Linked DNA regions of Homo sapiens. The protein of the gene in region 2 purifies or fractionates together with the protein of the main gene of each other region. This does not show direct contact. Each region holds a gene or a part of one and is shown on either strand. Other genes may lie near its edges.

Region 1 (4,797 bases), on a different chromosome or scaffold from region 2:
CAGAGTAGTTGGTATTACAGGTGTGCGCCACAACGCCAAGCTAATTTTTTGTATTTTTGGTAGTGATGGGATTTCGCTGTGTTGGCCAGGCTGGTCTTGAACCCCTGGCCTCAAGTGATCTGCCCACCCCAGCCTCCCAAAGTGCTGGGATTACAGTCATGAGCCGCCATGCCTGGCCTAACTTAACTATTTCTGATCTTATATGTAAGTGGACCCATTGGCTTCCCAAATGGAATAAAATTAAGGTGTCATCATTTTATGCGTAGATGCTGCAGCAGAACCCAAGGGGCTCAGATGAGAATGTGCAAACGTGTGAGGTCAAAAAGCTGCTATTGACAAAGCAGAGGAGTTATTATTATATAAATAGCCTTCAGCCCGCATCTCTGGATTTATGGTACTGGTCATTTTAGTATTAGCCAAGAAAGCTACTCCACTGGGAAACCATTCAATGAAGGAGGGAAGAATAACGCCTCCCACACCCAAAGGTGTTTCCTAACTCGGAACAGAAACACATTTCACACATTTTTAACTTTTAATTTTGAAATCATTTCAGATTTCCAGGAAAGTTGCAAAAATATCATAAAGAAATATCTACCCTTCACTCAGATTCCCAAATGTTAGCACTTCGCCACATCTGCCTCATTCTTCTTTCTCTCTCTTCACACACACACACACACACGCGTGCACACACACAGATACATGCACGTACACATACATGCACACAAATACGTGCACACACACTGTCTCTCATTTTTTCTGAACCATTTAAGTTGCAGACATTATATCCCTTTACCCCTAAATACTTCAATGCATATTTCCTAAAAACAAGGCTATTCTGTTTAATAACTACAGTATAATTATCAGACCTAGAAAATTAACACTGATGCCTTGTTAGCACTATTACCTTATCTGCAGGCTGTATTCGATGCCCCACTAATGTCCTTTATAGCAAATGAAGAATTTTTTAGTCCAGAATCTGATCCAAGATCACATACTATATTTAGGTGGATCTATTTCCTCAGAAAACATTCTTTTTTTTTTTTTTTTTTTGAGATGGAGTATCACTCTGTCACCCAGGTTGGAGTGCAGTGGCACAATCTTGGCTCACTGCAACCTCTGCCTCTTGGGTTCAAACAATTCTCCTGCCTCAGCCTCCCCAGTAGCTGGGACTACAAGCGTGCACCACCATGCCCAGCTAATTTTTTTGTATTTTTAGTAGAGATGGGGTTTCACTATGTTGATCAGGCTGGTCTCCAACTCTTGACCTCAAATGATCTGCCTGCCTCAGCCTCCCAAAGTGCTGGGATTACAGATGTGAGCTACCACGCCTGGCCCTCAGAAAATATTCTAAGAGATGTTGAATGCTCATTATTAGAAAATCCTTCCTTTAAGATAACATCTTTGCTCTCCTGTTAATTGGATGACCAGTTGAAGGACTAGGTCAAAAGAATGTCTTCTAGCATATTTGCCTGTACTTACAGGGATAGGGCATGAAAGTAATTAAAACAAATATATTTCATTGTATTGATTATATGCAAGTTAGACATCATTGGGGAAGATTCGGTCTTCCTGGCTTTTCAGAGAAAAATGTTAACATGTGAGTTATGGCGCTGCTTGGTGTTGTCTGTTGGTTGGATGTTAAGGTGTACAATTTGTGTGCCTGCAACCAATGCATAGAGTTGCAGATGTCCATTGTAAGAAAGCAGATGTTGCATTTCTTCTTTCTTCAGACAATAGTCATAGTAGCTACACTTTCTTTGGCAGATGTGGTGCTGGAAAAAGCCATGCACAAGTGCATCTTGAAGCCCCTCAAGGGGCACGTGGAGGCCATGCTGAAGGACTTTCACATGGCCGATGGCTCATGGAAGCAACTCAAGGAGAACCTGCAGCTTGTGCGGCAGAGGAATCCGCAGGAGCTGGGGGTCTTCGCCCCGACCCCTGATTTTGTGGATGTGGAGAAAATCAAAGTCAAGTTCATGACCATGCAGAAGATGTATTCGCCGGAAAAGAAGGTCATGCTGCTGCTGCGGGTCTGCAAGCTCATTTACACGGTCATGGAGAACAACTCAGGTGAGGCCGCTGGAAGCCCAGGCTTCGTGCCGCTTCCCTTCCGGGCCGGGGACAGGCCTCTCTCCTGTCAGGCTTTCTGATTCCCAATTTCTCCTCCCTTTGGTCTCTTGATTTCACCAAGTGGCTTACAGAACTACAAGTGATTCTCTGATATCCGGCACATTAGTCACATGCAACAGATTAAAATGTAAGCAGATGAGGGCAACAAGATTTTTGTACCAGGCCGATTTAATTAAAGATTTAGTTCAGAGTATGGTTACAAATTCAGTCTCTGGAGTCTGAGTTCAAATCTTCCCTCCGAGAAGAAGAAAATTAACTGAGGGACTTTGGCCCCCTTAATCAACCTTGCACGCTGTAGTTTTCTGCGTCTTTAGCCGGATGTCACCCTTTCTTTCATGAGGTGGGGATTAGCTGAGACAGCCCACACATAGCCCCAAGTGCAATGGAAATGTCAGCGATTATCATTACAACATTTTGGCCAATGAGGGTTTGTGTCAATGACCTATAGTATGTGAAAGAAACTCTGAACATTCAGTTATAATGAGGCCTCATTAGAGCCGCTTCATTGGCTAGCCCTTCTTTGCTACAAGCTGAAGCAATATAATTGAAATTCACCGAAGAGTTACAATCTTGGAAAGCCAGCCCTCAGATTTAGCCTTGTTGTTTCCTGTAGATGCAGGGGTAACCATGAATCCTGGATAGTAATGGAGCCCTGCATTGTCCCAGGTCTTCAGTAAGCTTATTGTAATTCTGAAGACGATTACGAACTTTTCTTCTGAGTGAAATTGCTTAATGGAGAAGCAGCAGAGAGAAAACACAGGCTGTATTAACCACTGCTTGAGTAGACAGGAATGTGTGTGCACTTTGGGAATTGTTGAGTGAAGAAGTTAAAATATGAGCTCCTGGGCGTGGTAATGATAGCAAGTGAACATCACCTCACAAGTTTGCAAGCATATTTCACATATAGGAAACATATTTTCTATAGTTCACAGTTATTTATAAAAATTCCCCAAATAATATCTGAATATCTGAATTCCCCAAATAATTCAGAAGGATTATGCTCTTCTGAAGCACAGTTCCTCAACACACACACTAAAGACATTAATGTAGACAGGATAATTCTTCTTTTGGGGGCTGCCCTGCTTCCTGTAGGAAGTTTAGCAGCATTCCAGATGTCATCTGCATCCCCACCCTCCAGTTATGTCAATGAAAAATGTCTTCAGACAGTGCCAAATGTCCCCTGGGGGACAAAATTATCTCCAGTTGAGAACCACTGATGTAAAGAAAACTAGAAGTAAACACTAACATTTTTTGCCATATATTTCCATTAATCAATGTGTATATTCAACATGTACTGAATTGGCACGTTTAAAGAAATTAACTGTGTGCTCACATTAAATACAGAGCAAAGTTAGCTTATTCCTGGTTTGAGTTTGACCTTGTCATTATGTTTGTAAATAATGTGCACAGCAAGAAAGAGGAAGTAAGACACAAAGAATTAGCATAAGTAAATATTTTGTAAGCATTTTATAATCTTGTTTGCTGAAAGTTAAAATATTTTAACGAGTATTCTGTTCTATCACATAATTTTATACAAATTATAAAAGTAGGGAGAAAATCTGTAATGTGTTCATTGGTTCATAGACATTCATTCTGAAACTGTAAGGGCTGGTCTCTAACATTAGCAGCTGGGAGGGTCAGAGGCTACATAGGATTCCAGAAACACTCACCTCTGTTTATAAATAGCACAGTTCCCCCCAGAGTGACTCCTTGCTGTCTAATAAAAGCAGCAAGAAGGATGTGAAAGAAAGAAAAGTTGGTAAAAATATTCCATCTCCTTCTCTTCCTGCTCTCAGGGAGGATGTATGGCGCTGATGACTTCTTGCCAGTCCTGACCTATGTCATAGCCCAGTGTGACATGCTTGAATTGGACACTGAAATCGAGTACATGATGGAGCTCCTAGACCCATCGCTGTTACATGGAGAAGGTAACTGCTTTTGAGAAAAGTTGAAGGAACTGGGTGCTATTTTTTTCATTTTTTTATAATTGAGACGAAATTCATGTCACATAACATTAATCATTTTACAGTGAATAATTCAGTGGCATTTAGTATATTCACAATGTCATGCATTCTCCACCTTTATTTAGTGTCAAACTATTTTCCTCACCCTAAAATAAAATTCTGCACCCATGAAGCAGTTACTTGGGTGCTTTTTTGACATCTTAAGTGTTAACTGAATTTTTTATTAATTTAAAAGAGTGTACTAACCTTTTTCTGATTGCAAAAGTAATACACACTCGTGGTAGAAAATTTGGAAAAGTCAGGAAAAACACAAAGAAAAAATATAACCCCATCTTAACTATACTTCACTAAGATTGCTTAATGGCAATAAAAAAAATACATTCAGTAGAATAAATGCCATTTTTTTTGGAAGAAATGGTTTCTTTGGCTCCAAGAGGAAATTATAAACTTTTGTTGAGGATATTTCCATTGCCAGGAAAATAACCTGCTCTTATATTAGTGAAATGGATAAAAGCTTGGCTTTGTTTTTATTTTTTAAAATTTCGTTTTCAAGGTGAAAACAGTATTAATTTTTTTCCAGTTTTTTTTAAGTATCTTTTCATTTTTATAGTAAAAATACAGGGGTGTGGAATCTGTGCAGTTTGCTCTCAATTTACGTTGGCATTCGGGTTCCTTCTCCTTGTGTCTGCCTAACCCCAACATG
Region 2 (4,797 bases):
TGCAGGTTTGTTACATAGGTATACATGTGCCATGTTGGTTTGCTGCACCCATCAACTCGTCATTTACATTAGGTATTTCTCCTAATGCTATCCCTCCCCCAGCTCCCCACCCCGCAAGAGGCCCTTGCATGTGATGTTCCCCACCCTGTGTCCATGTGTTCTCATTGTTCACTTATGAGTGAGAACATGTGGTGTTTGGTTTTCTGTCCTTGTGACAGTTTGCTGAGAATGATGGTTTCCTGCTTCATCCATGTCCCTGCAAAGGACATGAGCTCATCCTTTTAATGGCTGCATAGTATTCCATGGTGTATATGTGCCACATTTTCTTAATCCAGTCTATCACTGGTGGACATTTGGGTTGGTTCCAAGTCTTTGCTATTGTGAATAGTGCCACAATAAACATACGTGTGCATGTGTCTTCATAGTAACATGATTTATGATCCTTTAGGTATATACCCAGTAATGGGATGGCTGGGTCAAATGGTATTTCTAGTTCTAGATCCTTGAGGAATCGCCACACTGTCTTCCACAATGGTTGAACTAATTTATGCTCCCACAAACAGTGTAAAAGCATTCCTATTTCTCCACGTCCTCTCCAGCATCTGTTGTTTCCTGACTTTTTAATGATCGCCATTCTAACTGGCTTGAGATGGTATCTCACTGTGGTTTTGATTTGCATTTCTCTGATGACCAGTGAGGATGAGCATTTTTTCATGTGTCTGTTGGCTAGATAGATGTCTTCTTTTGAGAAGTGTCTGTTCATAACCTTTGCCCACTTTTTGATGGGATTATTTGTTTTTCTCTTGTAAATTTGTTTAAGTTCTTTGTAGATTTTGGATATTAACCCTTTGTCAGATGGGTAGATTGCAAAAATTTTCTCGCATTCTGTAGGTTGCCTTTTCTTTTGCTGTGTGGAATCTCTTTAGTTTAATTAGATCCCATTTGTCTATTCTGGCTTTTGTTGCCATTGCTTTTGGTGTTTTAGTCATGAAGTCTTTGCCCATGCCTATGTCCTGAATGGTATTGCCTAGGTTTTCTTCTAGGATTTTTATGGTGTTAGGTCTTACATTAAAGTCATTAAGCCATCTTGAGTTAATTTTTGTATATGGTGTGAGGAAGGGATCCAGTTTCAGCTTTCTACATATGGCTAGCCAGTTTTCCCAGCACCATTTATTAAATAGGGAATCCTTTCCCCATTGCTTGTTTTTGTCAGGTTTGTTGAAGATCAGATGGTTGTAGATGTGTGTTGTTATATCTGAGGCCTCTGTTCTGTTCCATTGGTCTATATATCTGTTTTGGTACCAGAATCATGCTGTTTTGTTTACTGTAGCCTTGTAGAATAATTTGAAGTCAGATAGCATGATGCCTCCTGGTTTGTTCTTTTTGCTTAGGATTGTCTTGGCTCCACAGGCTCTTTTTTGGTTCCATATGAATTGTAAAGTAGTTTTTCCAATTCTGTGAAGAAAGTCAGTGGCAACTTGATGGGGATAGCATTGAATCTATAAATTACCTTGGGTGGTGTGGCCATTTTCACGATATTGATTCTTCTTATCCATGAGCATGGAATGTTCTTCCATTTGTTTGTGTCCTCTTTTATTTCATTGAGCAGTGGTTTGTAGTTCTGGTTAAAGAGGTCCTTCACATCCCTTGTAAATTGGATTCCTAGGTATTTTATTCTCTTTGTAGTAATTGTGAATGGGAGTTCACTCATGTTTTGACTTTCTGTTTGTCTATTATTGGTGTATAGGAATGCTTGTGATTTTTGCAGATTGATTTTGTATCCTGAGATTTTGCTGAAGTTGCTTATCAGCTTAAGGAGATTTTGGGCTAAAATGATTGGGTTTTCTAAATATACAATCATATCATCTGCAAACAGAGACAATTTGACTTCCTCTTTTTCTAATTGATTTATGTCATTCTCTTGCCTGATTGCTCTGGCCAGAACTTCCAACACTATTTTGAATAGGAGTGGTGAGAGAGGGCATCCCTGTCTTTCGCCGGTTTTCAAAGGGAATGCTTCCAGTTTTTGCCCGTTCAGTATGATATTGGCTGTGGGTTTGTCATAAATAGCTCTTATTATTTTGAGATACATTCCATCAATACCTAGTTTATTGAGAGTTTTTAGCATGAAGGGCTGTTGAATTTTGTCAAAGGCCTTTTCTGCATCTACTGAGATAATCATGTCCTTTTTGTTGTTGGTTCTGTTTATGTGATGGATTACATTTATTGATTTGTGTATGTTGAACCAACCTGGCCTCCCAGGGATGAAGCCAATCTGATCGTGGTGGATAAGCTTCTTGATGTGCTGCTGGATTCAGTTTGCTAGTATTTTACTGAGGATTTTCACATCAATGTTCATCAGGGATATTGGCATAAAATTCTCTTTTGTTGTTGTGTCTCTGCCAGGCTTTGGTATCAAGATGATGCTGGCCTCATAAAATGAGTTAGGGAGGATTCCCTCTTTTTCTATTGATTGGAAAAGTTTCAGAAGGAATGGTACCAGTTCCTCTTTGTACCTCTGGTAGAACTCGGCTGTGAATTTGTCTTGTCCTGGACTTTTTTTAGTTGGTAGGCTATTTATTATTGCCTCAATTTCAGAACCTGTTATTGGTCTATTCAGAGATTCAACTTCTTCCTGGTTTAGTCTTGGGAAGGTGTATGTGTCCAGGAATTTACCCATTTCTTCTAGATTTTCTACTTCATTTGCGTAGAGGTGTTTATAGTATTCTCTGATGGTAGTTTGTATTTCTGTGGGATTGGTGGTGATATCCCCTTTATCATTTTTTATTGCATCTGTTTGATTCTTCTCTCTTTTCTTCTTTATTAGTCTTGCTAGTGGTATATCAATTTTGTTGATCTTTTCAAAAAACCAGCTCCTGGATTCATTGATTTTGTGAAGGATTTTTTGTGTCTCTATCTCCTTCAATTCTGCTCTGATCTTAATTATTTCTTGTCTTCTGCTAGCTTTTGAATTTGTTTGCTCTTGTTTCTCTAGTTCTTTTAATTGTGATGTTAGCGTGTCAATTTTAGATCTTTCCTGCTTTCTCTTGTGGGCATTTAGTGCTATAAGTTTCCCTCTACACGCTGCTTTAAATGTATCCCAGAGATTCTGGTACAATGTGTCTTTGTTCTCATTGGTTTCAAAGAACATCTTTATTTCTGCCTTCATTTTGTTATTTACCCAGTAGTCACTCAGGAGCAGGTTGTTCAGTTTCCACGTAGTTGAGCAGTTTTGAGTGAATTTCTTAATCCTGAGTTCTAATTTGATTGCACTGTGGTTTTAGAGACGGTTTGTTATGATTTCTGCTCTTTTACATTTGCTGAGGAGTGTTTTACTTCTAACTATGTGGTCAATTTTAGAATAAGTGGGATGTGGTGCTGAGAAGATTTGGGGTATGCAGTTCTGTAGATGTCTATTATGTCCGCTTGGTCCAGAGCTGAGTTCAAGTCCTGGATATCCTTGTTAACTTTCTCTCTTATTGATCTGTCTAATATTGGCAGTGGGGTGTTAAAGTCTATCATTATTATTGTATGGGAGTCTATGTCTCTTTGTCGGTCTCTAAGGACTTGCTTTATGATTCTGGTTACTCCTGTATTGGGTGCCTATATATTTAGGATAGTTAGCTCTTCTTGTTGAATTGATCCGTTTACCATTATATAGTGGCCTTCTTTGTCTCTTTTGATCTTGTTGGTTTAAAATCTGTTTTATCAGAGACTAGGATTGCAATCCGTGCTTTTTTTTGTTTTCCATTTGCTTGGTAGATCTTCCTCCATCCCTTTATTTTGAGCCTATGTGTGTCTCTGCATGTGAGATGTGTCTCCTGAATACAGCACACTGATGGGTCTTGGCTCTTTATCCAATTTTCCAGTCTGTGTCTTTTAATAGGGACATTTAGCCTATTTACATTTAAGGTTAATATTGTTATCTTTGAATTTGACCCTATCATTATGTTAGCTGGTTATTTTGCCTGTTAATTCCACAGTTTCCTCATAGCGTTGATGGTCTTTACAATTTGGCATGTTTTTGCAGTGGCTGGTACCGGTTGTTCCTTTCCATGTTTAGTGCTTTCTTCAGGAGCTCTTGTAAGGTAGGCCTGGTGGTGACAAAATCTCTCAGCATTTGCTTGTCTGTAAAGGATTTTATTTCTCCTTCATTTATGAAGCATAATTTGGCTGGATATGAGATTCTGGGTTGAAAATTCTTTTCTTTAAGAATGTTGAATATCGGCCCCCACTCTCTTCTTGCTTGTAATGTTTCTGCCAAGAGATCCACTGTTAGTCTAATGGGCTTCCCTTTGTGGGTAACCCAACCTTTCTCTCTGGCTGCCCTTAACATTTTTTCCTTCATTTCAACCTTGTTGAATCTGATGATTATGTGTCTTGGGGTTGCTCTTCTTGAGGAGTATCTTTGTGGTGTTCTCTGTATTTCCTGAATTTGAATGTTGGCCTGCCTTGCTAGATTCGGGAAGTTCTCCTAGATAATATCCTGAAGAGTGTTTTCTAACTTGGTTCATTCTCCCTGTCACTTTCTGGTACACCAATCAAATGTATATTTGGTCTTTTCACATAGTCCCATATTTCTTGGAGGCTTTGTTCATTTCTTTTCACTCTTTTTTCTCTAATCTTGTCTTCTTGCTTTATTTCATTTATTTGATCTTCCATCACTGTTATCCTTTCTTCCACTTGATCAAATCAGCTATTGATGCTTGTGCATGCATCATGAGGTTCTTGTGCTTTGGTTTTCAGTTCCATCAGGTCATTTAAAGTCTTCTTTACACCGTTTATTCTAGTTAGCCA
Region 3 (4,797 bases), on a different chromosome or scaffold from region 2:
TATCCAAAACAATCTGGGTTCTCTGGACCTAGTGTTAACTATCGTTCTTCATTTGTAAGGACATAAAAGTCTACAAATGTATGTTGTTTTGTAGTCCATTCCTAGGGGTTGATTTGTGAAATATATATTGTATATTTTGTGTGTGTGTGTGTGTGTGTGTAAGAGAGAGAGAGAGTGAGAGCAAGTTTACATTATGTTTTTTTTCTTTCGTCCTTCTGAACAGGATATATGTTTATTGTTCAAGAGTGACCACGACTTAGAAGTTTTCTTTCTGCGTGGTTCAATTGATGTCAAGACTTCATATCAGACATCACAGAAATGCATGGTATGTATATGTGTGTGACACACACATATACATACCATGCCTTGCATTTTTGTGACCAATTGCAGACTTACCACTGCATTGTAACTTTTTTTGTTTTCTCTATCAATTAACCAGAAGTTGTTTTTATTTATTGTTTAGTATTGCTACTTTCCTTCCTCTGAGGCAGCTCATCCTGGATACTATTTTGTTGTCTTTAGTTTATGTAAATATTTCAGAACTATTGGAATGACTCTTGGCTATGTCCTTAGCTAGTTTTAAGTTGCCTATTGTATGAACAGGGTGTATGTTTGAAAACTTTGAAGTAAAAACTTTGAAATAAAAGTAATAGAATGTAGAAAAACAATTTGGAGAATACAGAATTTTTGTTTTTCTTGTTTCTTGTCTGTGTGTTCAAAACCTTCGTTGTCTTGGATCACCTAGGTTCTTCTCACAATTTAAAGAGACTTTGATGAGTGTAGTCTAACATGTTTCAGGGAAATCTACAAATTGGGAACCTAGTCTAGAGGATACAACTAGAAGCTTAGAGTATTGGTTTCATTCTGGCTTTGCCACAAGTTGGTTGTCTAATTCTGGGCAGGTAGTTTTAACTCATGGCCTCTAGGTTTCAGCATAAAAGTGGAATCTGGAGTAATTGGTATCTGTGGTCCCTTTTAGCTTTAAAGTTGTCTGATTCTGTGGCTTGGCCCATTATTTTACCTGCAGGTTGGCCTATAATCTTTATCCTGGCTCTTGGGGCCAGGCATTAACCAAGCCCTTAACTTAATGCATTTAAATCATGATTGTCAGGGAATTCTGGGGAGCAGTTTTATCAAAAGGTCAGTGAACTGAGTTTTCAAAGAAGATATATTGAAGGCAGATGTTTATTTATTTGGAATGTTTTCACAAGATAGGAAGATGAGTATGGCGATGTTGCTTAGGTCTAGTTCATCCAGTTTTGAGACCTAACCTACATAGCCATGTGGGTTCTAAAGGTAGGATAATAATAAGGAACTTTATTAAGTGCAATTTGCATCTCCTGCAATATACTTCTGTTTGAAATCATGATGGGAACAAACAACAACAGAAGTAACCCCCCAAAGAATATCTTAACAGGAACTTCTAGAAACAATATTTTATTAGTTTGCCTCACAAAATTTGAAGACTAGGCACTGTTTTGAGTTTCTTGTTGACAGGTTTGGCTCCTTGGTTGATAATACATATATATTGTGTACATATGTATATATTGTCATAATACGTATACTCAGGGTTTTGTGTATTGCCATGATTTGGAAAACTTTTCTGGAATATGTTCAGAGCTTTATAATAGGTGGCTCTATATTTAGAACACAAACTAATGCACATTTTTGAGATGTGGCTGAGAGAAAAATATTTGTGCTGTCTGTCCTAATCTTCATTTCCTTGTAGTTGTAAAATGTTTCATTTGTTTTATTCCAGTATTATAAGTTGTGCCCATGCCTTGTCAAGACTATAAAATTTTTGATATCAGGGAGCCTTGTTTATCTTTGTATTCTTATCTTGCCACCCCCTTCATTGTCAACTTGTCTGCCAGATTGGTACCTTGCTCATAGTAAGTCAGTGTCTGTTGTATGTTGATCCGTTTGTCCTTTGACCATCCAGATCTCAACCTGACTGACTGTATGGGTGGTAGAGTAGCTTAAACAAAGGCATGCCACAAACAGCTAAATATGGATACAGAATCCAAGAGCATCAAATGCAGAACATTTTTCAGATATTTATAGCCTCAAAGCAAAGTCAATTGGCTGAAAAAGCTCAGCAGCATAGCGAAAGGAAACGGGAGTGGCAAAGCCAGCCTCACTGTCTGTGCTTTCTGGTAAACAATGAGAACATTAAAATTAAATACTTTACCATGAATGGATGGGGAGTGTAGGACACTCTGGGAGAAATTTAAGATCCCAATCTCTAGGATTGCCTGCGGTGGAGCTCTGCACTCATCAGTATGACAGGTCTGCAAGTATGTGCTCAGATATGCTCTTGGAGAGTTAGAAGGGAAATATAATCAGCACAAGAAAGGGATCAACAAGAAATCTTGTACTTTTAAATTTTAATATTATCAGAAGGAATTAGGTAAAATATTCTGTTAAGAAAATGAATAGCATCAACATTATTACCATTAAGCTTGTATACAGCTCATTGTTTATTGATAACAACATAGGGACCTGCTGGAAAATTTCAAAGGGCTAGTACTATTTAAGCAAACAGAAGAAAAAGGGAATTAATCATACTTCATTAAGTACCTTATAATTCCAGAAATGTGGCAGTGGGAATTCGGTAAGAATTAATAGAAGTTCATATTCAAGAAGTGAATATGAGCTGATGAGACAGAAGTCATATCTGGTTGTATTATATGATACTGCTTACGCCTCACCAATTAAGACACAGGATGAGATTTTTAAAAGTTACGTTTCTAGAGGTTATGTCTCTAAATTTATTTAAAATGTTGCAACTAGTATGGCTAGAAGAAAATCAGTGAGTGTGTATAAAATACATCCCCAAACATGTTCATGTTCCTTAAATGTCTTAATTTCCTCAGGTACTGTTAATTGAATCTTTACACCTGAGTAGTCATATTTTAGAAATTTTTGGAATCTTAAGCTTGAGTTCAATACTTAGGATGTGGCATAGGCTTGTTGATGTATTAGTTTCCAATGATTTCCAAATACATTAAAACACATTAAGAATAGACAGTTTTTCATTGAAATCAGAGAGAACTTCTAAGAATGCCTAGGCATGTACTGTTTAAGTGACTTTAAATAGCCCCCTTTTTTCTTCTTTTGAGAGAAAATTTGTATGTCTTATTTAAATTGTGTGCTCTATTAATGTAGGTGATAGTTTCATTTATAACATCTTAGTATTGTTCTACCCTCTATCATGTTGGTTCACTGCTATTTGATTTTCAAACAGTGAAAATATTTTTAAGGAATAGAATTATACATCCACAATCTCTTTTCCAAAACCATTTGGACTAGACAGTTATGTTAATATTTCTGCAGTTAAACAAGTGAATAGGCCGGGCGTGGTGGCTCACGCCTGTAATCCCAGCACTTTGGGAGGCCGAGGCAGGTGGATCACTTGAGGTCAGGAGTTCAAGACCAGCCTGGCCAACATGGTGAAACCCCGTTTCTACTAAAGTACAAAGAAATTAGCCGGGTGTGGTGGCATGCACCTGTAATCCCAGCTACTTGGGAGGCTGAGGCAGGAGAATCGCTTGAACCAGGGAGGGGGAGATTGCAGTGAGCTGTGATTCCACCGTTGCACTGCAGCCTGGGTGACAGAGTGAGACTATCTCAAAAAAAAAACAAAATCATACCAAGTGGTATAAAGACTATAAATAGCCTTATGTCAGTGCAGGTCAGACTTTACTGCCAGAAAAGTTGCATACAGTCTTTTGCTTTTCAGAGCTTTTTTGATTTAGGAATTGCAGATATGGAATTGAGGATCTGTACAAATCTTCAGACATAAATAATACAAAGTTCTAGAACACCCCTCTTTAAGAATAGTTTGTGTGGATATCCTTTATCTTTTTCAGATAATAACATTTACTGAACACATTTTTAAAAATGGGCCGGGCGCGGTGGCTTATGCCCATAATTCCAGCACTTTAGGAGGCCAAGGTGGGCGGATCACCTGAGGTAAGGAGTTTGAGACCAGCCTGGCCAACATGGTGAAACCTTGTCTCTACTATAAATACAAAAAAAAAAAAAAATTAGCAGGGCATGGTGGCACATCTGTAATCCCAGCTACTCGGGATGCTGAGGCACGAGAATCGCTTGAGCCCAGGAGGGAGAGGTTGCAGCTAGCTGAGATCGTGCCACTGCACTCCAGCCTGGGCAACAGAGCGAGACTCAGTCTCAAATAAAAAAAAAAAAAAAAAGTTGTACAGTTGTGTTTCCTACTATAGTGAGTGAAATTTCTGTGGTTTGCTAAGAAAAAGAAAAGAGATTCACATGACATAGTAGGCTTTACCAAGATTATTAAGGAAATGGTGGCAAGGTAGTGGTTTCGGATCCTTTGTTTCATTAGAAGGAAGGATGAGGTAAGTTGAAATAGAGGGTTTATGTAATTGTTCTTTGCAGTTGCTTTCTTCAGTAGCACAAAGTGATTTGATCACCTTTTAAGTAGGTGAACCACAAAAAAGCATTCAACTAATGACAGTTAATTCAGAAAAACTTCAGCTGTTTGCTCCCTTGTCCCTCCCTATTGGAAAAACTTTTAACTAACTAGAGAGTTGTTTGGTCTTGTTAACCAGGAGGAGGAGTTTGAAGTGTGCTAAGGGCACTGCTAAAATTGCTTCACCCTATCTTGGTAGAGGGATAATTGCTGTCTGATGTTTGTAAAAACACCTTTCTTCCCAAAGGCTGTCAAGTACTTCTTAAGGCTAGCATGTAGAAAACCCTTTTGCAAATTTCATGTAGTTTATTTTATAGTGAGAGGGCAGCCCATCAAGAAGTAAT
Region 4 (3,995 bases), on a different chromosome or scaffold from region 2:
CTGCTTCCAGGCCGTTCACTGGGCTCTCCTTGTTGGTTTCTGTTCTCCTAGAAATTATTGTACTGCATTGCCTGTATTGTGTCCATTTTTCTGGTTTGTTTGTTTGGTTGGTTTTTAATAAAGAGATGGGGTCTCGCCATGTTACCCAGGCTGGTCTTGAACTCCTAGTCTCAAGTGATCCTCCCTCCCTGGCCTCCCAAAGTGCTGAGATTATAGGCGTGAGCCAATGTGCCCGGCCCTATTTGTTTTTAAGACAAGAGAGTAAATACAATCTCCTTCCAATCTAATTTTCCTTAATAAAACAAATACCCTCCTGCCACCCCACCCCCAGCACAAGCTTTCCTCAGAGTGATACCTTCCTGTACTGGGGAACCTGCCCCGGAGGGTCCCCCCCGCCACCACCGCTCCTCCCAGTTAGTGCTCCCTGAACTGCTGCCCTGCTGCCCCCATTACAGTCCCGTGCAGAACCGGCCCCGGCACAGTGGCTCCCTGTGTGTCTTCTGTGAGTGGGCTAAGTGCTTGCCCAGTGTGCGGTGGCTGCTCTAGGCTGGAGGAATCAAGAGGGCAGGGATGGAGAGAAGCCTTGGGAGTGGAGGGCTCATCTAAGAGTGTGTGGAGCAAGGAGAAGGGAGGCTGAGGCCAAAGCCCTGTGGACCCCCATGTCCAGAGGCAGACAGGACAAGGCATCTAGGAGACAGGCAGACCCAGAGAGTGTGGGGTCTCAAAGCCAAAGGAGAGTGGGAAGGTGGGAGTGCCCAGCAGTGAGAGTGTCTCAGGAACCAGCCAGGTGGGGCCAGGAGGGCTCCCAGGCAGGGAGCAGCAGGACGGAGCCGGCCTCCTGCCCACTGAGCTTCCGCGGGTGGTATGTCCCCCAGCTACTGCTCATTGTTCTGCCTGCACACCTGTCCTTCAGATGTCTCCTACTGATGTGCGACCTCCCAGCCCACCCTCCAGGGAACGTCACTGCTTCCTGCTCTTTGTTCCAGGGACCTGAGCTTTCCACTAGCGCAGCTGCTCCGTGCAGGGTGTAGTTAGTTACTCGTGCCTCCTGCCTTGTGAACTCCTTGAGGGAAAGGACTAGAGTTCATTCATCTTGGCACCTCGCGTACAACTTTGTGAAGATGGCGGGGGCAGGGTGGAAAAAGTTCTAGAGCCTTTCAGGGCCTTCGTCTTTCCACCACCTGCCTAGCTCTAGGGGTTTGAAGATCTAATGCCCATTTCCACCCATCTTGGCTCCTGGAAGAACATCGGGAAAGGGGCAGCCCGGGGGCCTCTGGGGCTTTAGGAGCAGCGAGTGTGGGATGTGGAGGTGAGGAAGGAGGCCCAGCAGTGTCAGTTGCTGGGAGTCGGCTGGAGGGCCTCTGCCCCAGGCAAGTATGGGAGGCAAGTCTCTGACCCAAGGAGGGGCTCTCCTAGTGTGTCCCTGCTGTGTGCGGGGGTGATGGGCTTGTTCTCACACCCTCCCCACCTCTGCTGCCTCCAGGGCCAGTCTGACTGTCTCTGTCTCTGGCTATAGGTTGATGTCCGTGGAGGAAGAACTGAAGAAGGACCACGCAGAGATGCAAGCGGCTGTGGACTCCAAACAGAAGATCATTGATGCCCAGGTGGGGGCTCCGGCCCTTTGGTCAGCCACAAGAGTTAAAGGGCCTGGGATTAGGAGGGGTGACTAGCCTCTCCATCCTCAGTCATACCTCACTGCAGACACTGAGGGGAATAAGAAACCAGAATCTGCCCTGAGAAGTCAGACCTGTGGTCTTAGTGGGCCACAAGCTCACTAGGACAGGCTGTGAAAGGAGAGAGGCAGCTCCTCCCCTGCCAGGGCTCTTGGCGGGCATTGTCTTTCACCAGGACTGCTGACCAAAGAGTGGAAGCCACCAGGAGGGCAGTGGGGGTAGGAGTGAAGGCAGGCTGGTCAGAGGGAGCAGTGGGGCTCTCGTTCACAACTATGGCATCCGGGCTGCATTGAGGGGAGACGTGAAAGGCTCTGTGGCCCCAGCCTCCTTTACTCAGGGCTGCACCGCTTTCCTTTCACTCACCCAGGAGTAGGCTGGGCCTTGCTCAGGCTGTAAACTGCACAGACCAGGAGCTGTGACCTCTGGTGTGTCATGCACACACATGTGAGCAAGGGTGCCTGCCCTAGGGGCCGCAGGCAGCCCATAGACAGCACTAGAGCTGCTGCATTTGGGCTGATAAGCAGGCAGCGAGGCTGTGTCCATGATGCTGCAGAGGCCTCTGCCTACCTTCTCTTGCCAGCTGCTCACAGCCCGGAGCCTGCCTGCCACCCTCATCTCCAGGCCACCCCCTTCCCCGATGCTTGTCGTAGGTATACACAGCCCTAAGGAGCCTGTCCCATGACCCCCGCTCACATCCCCATTGTCCACAGGAGAAGCGCATTGCCTCGTTGGATGCCGCCAATGCCCGCCTCATGAGTGCCCTGACCCAGCTGAAAGAGAGGTACAGCATGCAAGCCCGTAACGGCATCTCCCCCACCAACCCCACCAAATTGCAGATTACTGAGAACGGCGAGTTCAGAAACAGCAGCAATTGTTAACCTGCCTGAGGAGGGAGGAAGCTACCCAAGGAGAGGGGGACTATGGTGGCCAAGGGCAGGGTCTCGGCCTGGGGAGGCACCCACGGTTGCAGCCCCAGCGCGGGTGTCAGGAGGCCGAGCCTCCCCTCCCTGCCGCTGTCCAGGAGGCGGCCGCAGAGGGAGCCACCAGAGACTGAAGCAGCGTGAGGCGAGGTCACCAGCCGCTCCCTGTGGGGTGCGGGCAGAAGAGACTGCACGCTGGGGAGTGGGGACAGCCTGATGGGGCAGGGGGCCTGCCAAAAATATGTCTGTTGGTTCCTGAATGTGGTGTGTCCTTGTCCTCCTGGATCTGGCCGAGTGCATGTGTCCCCCCACACCTGTGCCAGGGAGGGGGCTTCCTGGAGGGGGGATTCAAGGGCTAGGGGCCTACACCTGTGGCTTCCCCTCGCCTCCTTGGGGGGCCCGGGACTCCCTGGCAGCCAGGCCCTGTCATGTGGGACCTGGCACTTGGCAGATCAGTTGGCAGGCAGGAAGATAGGAGGACACAGAGCAGGAGGTCAGTGTCCCCTGCCTGTCTCCATCCGAAGCACCTGCCACTGCATGCAGCCTGTTGGGACCTTCCTGGCTGTGAGGAACTGAGGATTCCTACCCACCCACCCCCTCTGAACCTGTCCCCAGAGCACCACCTGCTACCTTCTTCCCTGCCTTAGTTGTATTGCCAGATAGACCCAGTGAGGGCCATGGCTTTTTCTTGTGAGCTCTTGTCCCTGTGGGGAGGACCCACAGCTTCCCACACCTCCCACACAGGCCCAGGCTGATGCTCTAGGGCTCCCAGAAGCCAGAGATCTGGGCGGATCTGGCCAGATGGCTCTGAGCACTGTATCTGCCTTCTCCTGGGGCCCAGCACACCCAGGGCACAGTGGTCCTGTAGGGAGTGCCACCTGGTGCTCACCCTGAAAGAAAAGGTGATCCTTCCTCTGAGTGATGGTTTAAAAAAAGATTCTAACGCCTGCAGGCCCTGAGAAGGTGGATAACTGTGATTTTTTTTCCTTTCACAGTATGCATTAGAAACAAAAGCCCGCTTGCTCGCTTGCTGGAACACAGGGGCCTTTTAAGTTGAGCGTGCGCACTGCATGGGAAATAGCGGCCCTGGAGGATGTTAGACTTGCTCCCTCTCCAAGACAGCAGCAGCCTGCACCTGCCCCGTGTGTGTGGCCGGCCTCCTCCTCACCCTTCCCGGCCCCCGGCCAAGGACCCAGGCGCTGCATACAGGGGAGGGGCGCACCCCACAGCTGGGGCCGGTTTTCCTCAGCTCTAGGCTGTTCTGTAGCTTATCTGCCCCTCCCCCACTTTCAAGACAGATGAGCAGGAGCTTGGGTCTCTCTCGGCCCCTGTCTGTTCCCAGCCCCTGCAGATTCTGAGCAAAGGCCCTGGGTAAGAAGGGTGGGAGTGGGGCCTTTGCCAG
Region 5 (5,435 bases), on a different chromosome or scaffold from region 2:
AAGCATTAAACAGATTTACTTTCATAGGGTTTCCATTCTAGATCTTTCTCATCTTTGGCAAGTGAAGAACAATTGTTTTTGGGTTGTAATTATCTATCAGATAGCTGTCTGGACCTGCTATCAAGTCTAAATTTGTAGATACACCTATCAAAGAGATCACATTCACTTATTTATACATTTACTTATTTATTTTACAATTTTTTGTAGAGATGGGGGGGGTCTCGCTGTGTTGCCCAAGATGGTCTTGAACTCTTGACCCCAAGCAATCCTCTCACCTGGCCTCCAAAAGTTATGGATTACAGGTGTGAGCCACCATGCTCCATTTATGAATTTAATACATTAATTGCTTTCTTAATATAGATGGGACACCTCTGACCCCTCCTGAGTGAAAAATCCATGTTCCCAAGCACCCAGGCCTTCTATCCTATCACAAGGCATGGTTATCGCTTGTTTGCTTCCATCTCACCTAATACCACCAGCAGCTAAATTCATTCTGTTATTCATCTTTGTATTCTTACCATCTAGGCTAGTGCCTGCACATAGCAGACCTATTTAAAAAACAAACCAACCCAAACAAACATGAAGCCCCCACGTAGCTGAAGGAGGGCTGCTGGTTCCTAGACATAGAGATAATTTATTCAAGGACAGTCCCTATCCTCCAGGAGTTAACAATTCAGCACTAGACACCCTGTGGGACCCAGCCTGACAAGTGCAACGAGTGAGATGCCAGAATTGAGTCCTGCGGTCGAACAGAGGGACTACAGGGCAACGCACTGGGCGTGGGAGGTGGAGATGGCTCTGGGAAAGGATCCATTCATTTATTCTACATTTATCAATCACCGTAGCACACACAGCACATAGTAAGTGCTCAATATCTGTTATTAAATGCCAGCCACTGTGCTAGGTGCCAGGATGCAACAGCGGACAAGAAAATTGCAGGGGCACTTGCCCTCGTGGGGCTTACCGTGTAGCGAAGGATGACAGGCAGTAGACTGTCATCTTATTATGTAAAATTGTGCTAGATGCAGAGCAGGAAAATAACAGGCGGCTGAAATTCTAGTAATGATGTGAGCTCCTTCGGCTGAGGGGAACCGTGGGCGGGTTCTGAGCAGGAGTGGCCGTGAGGGGGACGGACCGTAGGGGGCGGGAAGACTGCAGGCAAGAGCTGGTAATTTTAAGATGCAAATAACATTTTTCTGCCTGACTGGAAGAGGAGCGTTTGGTCGCTCGGGATTCTCCCGGAGCAGGGGGCTGTATTTTGAGTGTAAAATCGGTTGCCCCGCAGTGCAGGGCAGGCGGTGGTGAACTGCAGCCCTAGTCCCCAGGTTTTTCATGCTTGGCACATCGAGGCTCTTCGGCCCCCAGGACCAGCAGACTCGCCATGCGTGGCTCGGATTCGGGCTGGAGCAGGCGGGCAAGGTAGCGGGGGCGGGTGCACAGCAACGCTCACCCCTAGGTTTCGGGGTCTGCAACGCTGGGAGGGCAAGAGGAGGCGGAGTTTGCGCTGCGGACCTAGGCGTTGGCGAGGGCCACGCCCCCAGCCGCAGACCCTGCCTCCAGGCCCCTTTGATTGGATCAAGACCGCGGAAGGGCCGGGCGTCCTCGGGCGGCCTGAGGGTCGGGCAGGGGAGGGTGCGCTGATTGGCCCGGCGGGGATTAAGTCATCGCTAGCAGGTTCGAGCGGCCCAGACACCGGCGGGGCGGCCGAGGCTGCTGTGAGAGGGCGCTCGAGGCTGCCGAGAGCTAGCTAGCGAAGGAGGCGGGGAGGCGGCGTCTGCACTCGCTCGCCCGCTCGCTCGCTTCCCGGCGCCGCTGCGGGTCCGCGCTGCGTTTCCTGCTCGCGATCCGCTCCGTTGCCCGCGCCCGGAACAGCAGCACCTCGGCCGGGTCCGAGCTCGGTTCGGGAGTCTTGCGCGCCGGCGGACACCGCGCGCGGAGTGAGCCAGCGCCACACCTGTGGAGCCGGCGGCCGTCGGGGGAGCCGGCCGGGGTCCCGCCGCGTGAGTGCTCTGGGCGGCGGGCGGCCCGGGCCCCGGCGGAGGCGCGCCCCCCGGCTGGGCGCCGCGCGCACCATGGGGCTCCCAGCGCTCGAGTTCAGCGACTGCTGCCTCGATAGTCCGCACTTCCGAGAGACGCTCAAGTCGCACGAAGCAGAGCTGGACAAGACCAACAAATTCATCAAGGAGCTCATCAAGGACGGGAAGTCACTCATAAGCGCGCTCAAGAGTGAGTGTCCCGAGCCCCTCGGGGACGCGGCTCCGGGGCGGGAGGAACTGGGAGGTGGCGCTTAGCCCGGGTTGCCCGCGCGTCTGCCGGGTTTCTGCTCCCGGTACACTGGGGGACGGGTGTCGACGCCTCCGAGGCAGGAAGGATACGTAAAGCGGGCGAACCAGCAACCATCAGATGAAGAGAGAGACCCGTCGCTCCGCCTTTTGCGTTCAGGGATGGTCGGGAGGTGACCCAGCGCGGGTGGTGCTCTGGGGCAGCGCGGGTGGGCGTGGGCGTGCGCGGCACGCAGGTGTCCCAGCAGTGGGGCCAGAGTGCCGAGCGCGCCGCAGCCAGCGGGCAGATCCCATCGTGTCCACAGCTCCAGCTCCCTTAGGGGCAGAGTTGCTCAGCCTTGAGTGCCCAACCGTGAGAATGGAGCGTGCCCTGCCGAGGGGGCGCTGCCTCCCCTTGGGAAAAGGTGGGTTGTGACTGCTTCGCTCCCTGTACGCAGCTCCAGCCTAGTCAGGCCGCCGGGTTCCCTGGGTGGAATGCTTGGTTAGCTTGCGATTCCTTGGAGTATTGGCAGCCAGTAATCTCTAAATCTGGAATCAGTACGTGCGCAGGTTCTGATTCTTGTGTTTAGCAGAAGGTGATAGGGGTGGGAGTAGAGAATCAGAGTGTTCCTTTACTCTAAACTGTGGGCGAGGGTTTAAAAATAGAATGTACATATCCCAACTCTCTCCCTCTCCTGCTCCCAAGCTCTCCTTTTTACCTCTTCCGTTATCCTTGTAAAGGTCTGAGAAGGAATATCCATAATTCTCAGAAAGAAGTTCAAACGTATTTCAAAGATTCTTGGACCTTTTGTAAAACCATTTTTGCGTTTTTTCCTTTTGGTACAAGGGGAGAGATGCAATTTTGCATTCTGCTTCACTTTTGCAGAGCCAGAGAGTTTCTTTTTCTGGCCAAATAAGCGTGCTCTAGGGATGAGTGCTTTGGATTGTGAGAACGTTTTTGGTGCCTTTTCAGTCTCCCCATTTAAAAATAGCTCAGTCCATCTTTTAGTTTTAAGAATCAGGAACCACATGAAGGCAGATAGTGGAATTGTCTCTGACTCTGTTACTGTATCTGTTTCTGTGATGGATTTCTTAGTAGGTGATACCTTTCAGCTAAGAAATCTTGCCTTAGCAGAGTAGAGTCGTAGCTGTGGGAATTGTTCCCAGGCCTCTTTAAAGGGCACTTACAAAAGTCAGGTGCCTGAGATGTCATTTTGTCAGCTTGTTGCTTCTAAAAATGAAGAGAGAGACAATGGAATGCCAGGGCAGCCCAAAGTGCCAATCTTTTGGGATGAAATGAACACAGGACTGTGATGTGATGAGGCTTCTTAGAGGCAGATTCTTAGGCTGTGCCTTACCTGAAACATATGAACAGACCCTTCCTTTGTCAATAATCAAGGCCATTCTTGGTTTAGGGGATGGGGGTCCCTGGTTTGGAGTAAGTTAGGGGCCCACTTACAGGTTGGGCCCAGGAATTTTGATTGAACCTCAGGCTGGCTTTAGTGAGTTCTCTGCTTCACTCAGCAAACTTTTGGTGTGATTGTGGTGTACTGGGTACTGCACTGGGCACTAAGGGTGTAGGAGTGAATATTTTGCTGCTCCTGTGCTTACAGAGGTGTACTTCATTCCAGGCACTGCTTCACATATAATTATCTCATGTGCTTAGATTCATTCTGCAAATGAGAAAACAGAGACTGGGGGAAGCATTACCTCTGAGTCACACAGCTCTAGCAGCAGGACCAGAGCTTTTGAATCCACCTGGTTTGAGCCAGAGATGGAGTCCCTGCCAGTGCAGAGCTCTTGACTTCTGCCCCATCTCACTTGCCCGGAATGGAACCTCTTGCACCAAGCCCTAGAATTTGGACTTGTGTTTTCTATTTTGGCATTGAATCTGAGGAGGGTGCGTTTGGGTGACTGGCAGTTTTCCTACCACTAGTTTTTGGGGGCAAGAATTCTTTGGTAGGAAGAAACATTGCAGTGATAGAGTTGAAGTGTTATTTAAGCTGTCTAATGGAATGGATCAGCCCTGTAATCTGGAGGAAAGACTGATGGGGATCTCGGTGTTCTGTTCTCTCTACGTCCAGCTCTGCTAATGTATTCTACCACTACTAACTACTACTTGATCAGGTCAGGTGACCTCTAAAAATAGAGGGTGGAGTCAACCATTGTGTCCTGGATTTCAGACATTCCGATATCATGAGATGCTTGCTGCGTGGTATACTACTATATTAATGTTTGTGTATTATTTTTCTTCAGTCATGTTTATTATATCTATAAACAGAAGTGTTTTCCCAGTACAACTTAAACATAAATACATAATTATATAAACACTGGGTTTAGATAATCTATGTTCTCTTATAGCTCTAAACTTTTGTGGCTTTATTTTATAGCCATATTTTATTTTATTTTACAGTTATTTTATAACTAGTATTTCTAGCTCTTTGGATTTAACTTGGTTTTGAGTGTTAATCATAGGCAATAAAACTGTCCTCTAGGGATTGCCAAAGTTCAGGTAGATCATTGTTACTATTACTTCCACTTTATGAATGAGATGCTGGCAATGGAGATGCAAATTCTTTATAGATCTAGATCCCGTAAAGGAGAAACATGCAGCAGGTGCTTGATTAAGTGAAAACATTGCCAGTTGTTTTTTAGACTCCGAGCCCTGGGTAGCAAAGACCAGCTAAGATTTTGTATTATCCTCTGAAGTTTTGGAGTTCTTTCTCCATCACGGGCTTTGAAGGCTAGAGGGACAGATGAGAGTGGCTGAATATGTCTTGGCTTTGTAAAGCAGCAGAGTTTCTTTTGGGGGTAGCACTGAATGATTATCAGTGATTGTCTTTTCACTGAGTAATATAGCATTGAACAGAGAGGCCAAAAACCTGTTCTTGGTGTGATTCAGTAAGGTAAGTAAGTGGTTCATCCTCTTTGCCTTTCAAAGCAAGAGTAAAAAGGTCAGCACTGAGTTACATGCTTTAAAGCCTGTCACCCTTTTGTACTTGTTAGAATTAAACGTGGGCATTTTGCAATACATAAGCGCTTCTTGAATGGCATAAACTCTCAAAGGATGTTCGATGCCAACCTGCTTTGTTTAGGAGTAATTATGTTACTCAGAAAATCCTAATGGAACAAATGGATGTGGAGTTGGGTAGCAAAATATTTTCCCCAGATCCT

What was found.
Region 1: the proteins of ANKS1B (region 2) and RIN2 purify together in Homo sapiens (affinity purification with mass spectrometry; one large-scale study listed by BioGRID and IntAct). This does not show direct contact.
Region 3: the proteins of ANKS1B (region 2) and RASAL2 purify together in Homo sapiens (affinity purification with mass spectrometry; one large-scale study listed by BioGRID and IntAct). This does not show direct contact.
Region 4: the proteins of ANKS1B (region 2) and DAB2IP purify together in Homo sapiens (affinity purification with mass spectrometry; one large-scale study listed by BioGRID and IntAct). This does not show direct contact.
Region 5: the proteins of ANKS1B (region 2) and ARHGAP26 purify together in Homo sapiens (affinity purification with mass spectrometry; one large-scale study listed by BioGRID and IntAct). This does not show direct contact.

What each region holds. Positions count from the first base shown.
Region 1 is NC_000020.11:19,988,242-19,993,038, forward strand, and holds part of RIN2 (ras and Rab interactor 2), read left to right. Parts: intron 1-1,764; coding exon 1,765-2,070; intron 2,071-3,926; coding exon 3,927-4,058; intron 4,059-4,797. UniProt on the Homo sapiens protein: Ras effector protein. May function as an upstream activator and/or downstream effector for RAB5B in endocytic pathway. May function as a guanine nucleotide exchange (GEF) of RAB5B, required for activating the RAB5 proteins by exchanging bound GDP for free GTP.
Region 2 is NC_000012.12:99,239,186-99,243,982, reverse strand, and holds part of ANKS1B (ankyrin repeat and sterile alpha motif domain-containing protein 1B), read left to right. Parts: intron 1-4,797. UniProt on the Homo sapiens protein: Isoform 2 may participate in the regulation of nucleoplasmic coilin protein interactions in neuronal and transformed cells. Isoform 3 can regulate global protein synthesis by altering nucleolar numbers.
Region 3 is NC_000001.11:178,096,328-178,101,124, forward strand, and holds part of RASAL2 (ras GTPase-activating protein nGAP), read left to right. Parts: intron 1-4,797. UniProt on the Homo sapiens protein: Inhibitory regulator of the Ras-cyclic AMP pathway.
Region 4 is NC_000009.12:121,779,948-121,783,942, forward strand, and holds part of DAB2IP (disabled homolog 2-interacting protein), read left to right. Parts: intron 1-1,516; coding exon 1,517-1,604; intron 1,605-2,383; coding exon 2,384-2,551; 3' UTR 2,552-3,588; coding exon of another isoform or gene 3,589-3,598; 3' UTR 3,599-3,995. UniProt on the Homo sapiens protein: Functions as a scaffold protein implicated in the regulation of a large spectrum of both general and specialized signaling pathways.
Region 5 is NC_000005.10:142,768,690-142,774,124, forward strand, and holds the start of ARHGAP26 (rho GTPase-activating protein 26), read left to right. Parts: upstream 1-1,687; 5' UTR 1,688-2,072; coding exon 2,073-2,226; intron 2,227-2,537; exon of another isoform or gene 2,538-2,640; coding exon of another isoform or gene 2,641-2,686; intron 2,687-5,435. UniProt on the Homo sapiens protein: GTPase-activating protein for RHOA and CDC42. Facilitates mitochondrial quality control by promoting Parkin-mediated recruitment of autophagosomes to damaged mitochondria.